Linked DNA regions of Homo sapiens: region 2 is linked to region 1. The links come from fine-mapping of genetic effects on gene expression. A gene starts in region 1. The other region holds a variant in brackets. All regions are shown on one strand. Distances are from middle to middle.

What was found. PIP is the estimated chance that this variant, and not a neighbour inherited with it, causes the effect.
Region 2: its variant is the best candidate, but not a certain one, in a credible set for the expression of TRIM52 in monocytes after Pam3CSK4 (Quach 2016, PIP 0.77).

The regions. Positions count from the first base shown.
Region 1 is chr5:181,259,728-181,262,626 of GRCh38, reverse strand. It overlaps TRIM52 (tripartite motif containing 52), which reads left to right and starts at 1,484. Exons shown (of 2, transcript NM_001346048.2): 1 at 1,484-2,626. The coding sequence starts at 1,814. TRIM52-AS1 (TRIM52 antisense RNA 1) reads right to left here and starts at 1,415. Exons shown (of 3, transcript NR_102762.1): 1 at 1,243-1,415. RefSeq lists silencers at 854-1,103, 1,214-1,363 and enhancers at 1,504-1,553, 1,734-1,783.
Region 2 is chr5:181,288,886-181,291,784 of GRCh38, reverse strand. No RefSeq gene overlaps it. Among named protein-coding and RNA genes, the nearest start is that of TRIM52-AS1, 29 kb to the right of the region's middle. The variant C/T (reference allele first, on the strand shown) is at 1,493.

The DNA of each region.
Region 1 (2,899 bases):
CCTCTGTTCTCTGGGACTACAAATCCAGGCCTGACCTGGTTCTATCCCTACCTGCAGAGACAGAAGACAGAAGGAGACAACCCCTGAGAAGCCTTTCCCCAGGGCCTGATTCCCCCTCCCACTGTAAGATCTCTCAGCCCGCACTTTGGGAGGCCGAGGTGGGCGGATCACGAGGTCAGGAAATCGAGACCATCCTGGCTAACAGGGTGAAACCCCGTTTCTACTAAAAATACAAAAAAAAAAAAATTAGCCGGGCGTGGTGGCGGGCGCCTGTAGTCCCAGCTACTCGGGAGGCTGAGGCAGGAGAGTGGCGTGAACCTGGGAGGCGGAGCTTGCAGTGAGCCGAGATCGCGCCACTGCACTGCATCCTGGGCAACAGCCAGACTCCATCTCAAAAAAAAAAAAAAAAAAAAAAACCTCTCAGCCCTGGATCAGGTCCCCTCTCCAGGAAAGGTGACAGAGTGGAGTCTAAATGACACTGCCCTAGGGCCCCGCTGGGGTGGAAAACAGACCCAGACAGCGCCCCCAGCCCTCCCTCCCCAGGGAGGAGTGAAGGGCATAACAGACAGCGGAGGACACCGGGACAGGAAGGAGGGGCCAGCCGCTCTCAAACTAAGTCTAAACCACGGCGGTGAGGAAGTGTGGTCCCAAATCCAGCCCCCTCCCGGCCGAGCTCACAGAGCTCAGGGCTGGAACTCGGAACCCTGGCCCGACGCAGGCGGCAGCACCGAAGGGAACTTGAGCCCCGGCCCCCTCAGGGGACCCACGACCGGGGCGCAGCTTTGCTGGCAGACGCCGCAATACTGCGCAGCCGCGGCCCCGCAAGCAGAAACAGGGCTGGGTCTGAGGCCTACGTGGAGCTGGGGCCCGACGGCTCACGGAAGGCAGCGGGGGGCACTGGGCGCCCCGGATCCGAGCCTCCCGGGCGGCAGGCCCTCCCAGCTGTGCGGCGCCCGGATCCCCACAAAGGCACCCCAAGCGCGGACGGCGGGACGGGCGACAGCACCAGGGTGGTGTCCCAGGCTTCCCCACCGCCGCGGACCAACTCGGCCCCGGCCCGGGCGGGGCTTCCGGAGAGATTTATCCCCCTTCCCTCTAACCTTCCTGGGGCTCCGGCTCAGGCTGGACAACGGCTCGGAGACCCAGTCCCCCTCAAGTGTTGACCCCCCCACCATCTAGAACCAGCCAACCCACCAAACCACCTCTCCCAAGCCGGGCCTCTTCCCGGCGTCCGCCGCTGACCTGATCAGAGCCGCTCTGCCGGCCCGAGGGAGCTGAGAAGGGGCTTGGGAATGGGGTCTTGAGGAGGGGCTGGCCGGAATGTGCAGCACTAGCCCAGCTGGAGCGGGCGGCGCGGGCGCGCCTGTCCCCCAGCCCACCCAACTCCCGGCCCGCGCGGCCCCCGGCACACCATAGAGACGTGGTCCTCCGCCGGCCTAGAGCGTCTCTCCAGAGCGTGTGCAGGAGCGAGACGTCATTTTGCGTCGCCTCGGGCAGGGTAGCCAGCGGCTGCATCTGAGGCGGACGCCGCAGTGTAGGGCACACCCTGAGGGTAGCGAGAGACGTGACAGGACCGAGCAGCTGGGGGCTGCAGCCTGCTCTGTCCCCACCGATCCCAGAGAGAGGCTGTGAGTCTGGATCTGGGCGTTCGCACCCTGAGAGAGGGGGTCAAAGCTCCCCTGCGGCCCCGAGGAAGAAGAGCAAGGTTGAGGACAGCCTCGGGTCACCAGAGTAGTTTGGAGGCAGGCCTGCAGGCGCGTCCCCGCTCCTCAGCTCCAAGCTGACGTATCTACACCTGCCGGCGGGCATTAAGATGGCTGGTTATGCCACTACTCCCAGCCCCATGCAGACCCTTCAGGAGGAAGCGGTGTGTGCCATCTGCTTGGATTACTTCAAGGACCCCGTGTCCATCAGCTGTGGGCACAACTTCTGCCGAGGGTGTGTGACCCAGCTGTGGAGTAAGGAGGACGAGGAGGACCAGAACGAGGAGGAAGATGAATGGGAGGAGGAGGAGGACGAGGAAGCGGTGGGGGCCATGGATGGATGGGACGGCTCCATTCGAGAGGTGTTGTATCGGGGGAATGCTGACGAAGAGTTGTTCCAAGACCAAGATGACGATGAACTCTGGCTCGGTGACAGTGGTATAACTAATTGGGACAACGTAGACTATATGTGGGACGAGGAGGAAGAAGAAGAAGAGGAAGATCAGGACTATTACCTAGGAGGCTTGAGACCTGACCTGAGAATTGATGTCTACCGAGAAGAAGAAATACTGGAAGCATACGATGAGGACGAAGATGAAGAGCTGTATCCTGACATCCACCCGCCTCCTTCCTTGCCCCTTCCAGGGCAGTTCACCTGCCCCCAGTGCCGAAAGAGCTTTACACGTCGCAGCTTTCGTCCCAACTTGCAGCTGGCCAACATGGTCCAGATAATTCGCCAGATGTGCCCCACTCCTTATCGGGGAAACCGGAGTAATGATCAGGGCATGTGCTTTAAACACCAGGAAGCCCTGAAACTCTTCTGTGAGGTGGACAAAGAGGCCATCTGTGTGGTGTGCCGAGAATCCAGGAGCCACAAACAGCACAGCGTGCTGCCTTTGGAGGAGGTGGTGCAGGAGTACCAGGTGAGAGAAATGAGGGAATGTGGGGGGATGAAGGGAGTGGAAAGGTAACTAGGAGAGCTGAGGAATGAGTAGCATTCCTTTCCCACCTCCTCAGGTACTTAGTTGCTAAACTTCTCTTTATTTGATGAGGGAGACACGGTGGAGAGAGATGGTCATATGGGTAAAAAAGGAGACACAAAACCATGAAGATTGGGGCAGATTGGCTTCCCCAGAGGAAGCTGAACAGATAATATGACGGTCACTGGAAGCGGACCACTACTGCTAATACTGGCA
Region 2 (2,899 bases), 29 kb before region 1:
ACGCCCATGAACATAAGATTACAGGACTTTTCCAGTTTAGACATACCATATTTTCTTTCAGACAATTCTTCAGTTTGTTTACATAGATCAGCGATACGATGATTCCATTTCTCTGAAAATCAAGCAAAAGTTGCTTCTCAATAATACGTCCCTATGTCAGAGCAGCACTAACGTATAATGACTGATTTCATATATTTTACATTCTAACAGTCCATATCATTTTACTGCTTTCAAGAAAAAATTTCCCCTTTTTGGTGGTTCTTAGAATGGTTTAATGGGAGACTATTAGAGAAGCTGAAAAGCAGGAGGGCAGAGAAGTTCAATCAAATTAAACACAATAACAGGGAGGTCACAATGAGGCGGTCTCCAGGGGTCTTTTAGCAAACTTCCTAAAACATGTCTCAGCTGTGTGAAATAAGACTTTACAGCAGCCGGGTGCAGTGGTGCAGGCCTGTAATCCCAGCACTTTGGCAGCAGAGGCAGGCGGATCACTTTGAGCTCAGGGCAACATAGCCAAAAGCCCCCTCCCTAGCCCCACCCCCACCCCGTCCCTACCAAAAATACAAAACAGCAGGGCATGGTGGCGGGCGCCTGTAGTCCCAGCTACTCAGGAGGCTGAGGCAGGAGAATCACCTGAACCCAGGAGGCAGACATTGCAGTGAGCCAAGATCACGCCACTGCCAGCCTGGATGACAGAGCAAGACTCCACCTCAAAAAAAAACAAAAACAAAAACACAAGGTTAAGAGGGACCCCCGACCTTACAGATACAAGTTTAAGAGGGACCTCTAAGCAAAAAATGCCAACCCTTTTTCTCCCAATCACTGAAACACCAGGAGGGTGTAACAGTTTTGCAGCCTAGCTGTAGCAGGCTGATGCCCCCCAGATGCCCATATCCTAATCCCGGGAACTGGTGAACATGACCTTATATGGCAAAAGGGGCTTTGCAGATATAATGAAGTTAAGGGTCTTTGGCTTTTGGGGTTGATGTACTCACTCGGATCCTTGTAAGAGCAGAGCAGGTGATGGAGAGGGTGGGAGGTGTAGTGACAGAAGCAGGAAACTCCAGTCATTCAAGACGGGCAGCACAAGCTGAGGAGTGCAGGCCACCTCTACGGCCAGGAAACAGATTCTCCCGCAGAGCCTCAGAAGCCACCAACCCTGCTCCCACCTTGACTCAGAAGGACTTACTGTAGAATTCTGGCCTTCAGACTTGTAAGGGAATACATTTTGGTTGTTTTAAGTCACTAAGTGTGTGGTAATTTGTTGCAGCAGCCACAGGAAACTAGTATTGTAGTGAAGCCTCAAAACCCCCCTGAAGGGGCTGGGCTCAGTGGCTCATGCCTGTAATCCCAGCACTTTGGGAGGCCGAGGTGGGTGGATCACTTGAGGTCAGGAGTTCGAGACCAGCCCAGCCAACATGGTGAAATGCCATCTATACAAAAAATACAAAAACTAGCCGGGCATGGTGGCACATGCCTGTAATCTCAGCTA[C/T]TCAGGAGGCTGAGACAGGAGAATTGTTTGAACCCAGGGGGGCGGAGGTTGCAGTGAACTGAGATTCCACCACTGCACTCCAGCCTGGGTGACAGAGCGACGCTCCATCTCGAAAACAAAACAAAACAAAAAAACCCCACCTGAAGGTTTCCAGTTCTGCCAGCAGTCTCCCACCCAACCCCCAGAAGCAGACATTCCATTGCTGTGGGCCATGGACAGGCAGAAGGAAGCACCTCCTCATGGCAGAGGCCTACCCAGGAGAAACCCAAGGGAAGGCACTGCTGGGCTGGCCCCTCTCTGCCAAGGCCATATTCTTTTTTTTTTTTGAGGCCAGTTTCACTCTGTCTCCCAGACTGGAGTGCAGGGGCACAATCTCGGCTCACTTCGACCTCTGCCTCCCCAGTTCAAGTGATTCTCCTGCCTCAGTCTCCTGAGTAGCTGGGATTACAGGAGTGTAGCATGCCTAGCTAATTTTTGTATTTCTAGTAGAGATGTGGTTTTGCCATGTTGCCCAGGCTGGACTCGAACTCCTTGCCTCAAGTAGTCCACCTGTCTCAGCCCCGCAAAGTGCTGGTATTACAGGAGTGAGCCACTGCACCCAGCATTTGCCAAGACCTTTGATGGCAGGCTTTTTCCAGGTGATCAGTCCTTGTCTGGTCTGGCTCTGCCCCACTCTCCTTCTCACCTAGTTGGAATCCCTAGCTACTTTTCAGTAGAGGAGAGTGTGTACCCCAATCCCAGCTTGGTTCAGATCTGCATTTAACTCATGGAACCTGGCTGCTCCCCAGGTCCTGAAGGAAAAAACGGTCTCTCTGTGCGTATGATAAAGGATGGGCCTGTCCCCAGGACCCTGTGAGAGGGAAGCCCAATGTCCCACCAGGTTGGCAGGGCTGGGGAAGGGAAAGTGTTATGGCAGCCCCAAGAAAAAAAAGAGGCAGCAGAGGGAGCAGGACAGCGCTCACATGGAACTCATGCCACTGCCTGAATGAGGGGAGGGAGGAGTGCACGCCAGTGACGTCAGGGGGCAGAGAGGCGCAGTTCCAGGGCGGCTTTCCCCCTCACTTCCTGCCATGTTACTCTGATCGCCTCCAGGTGAGCCTGCCCACTTTGTGCCCAGGGGCCTGTAGAAAACCACAGCTCCCCATGGTTATGGCCCCAGGAGTGGGGCAGAGCAGGGAGGAGTCCTGGACAGAGGAGAGGCAGGGGCAGGAGGGAGTGGGCCTCAAACTCCAGGAGGGGGCCCTTCTCATGGGTCCTGCTTTCTGGCTTCTCCTTCCTTACACCTGGGCTGATCACTTGGGGAAGAACTGAGACAAAGTTTCTCACCCTCAGGCCCAAAGGGTTTAATTACTGGGCCCTTAGGGAGGTGTGAGCCCCCTGAAAGGATGCAAGGTTTTGTTTTGTTTT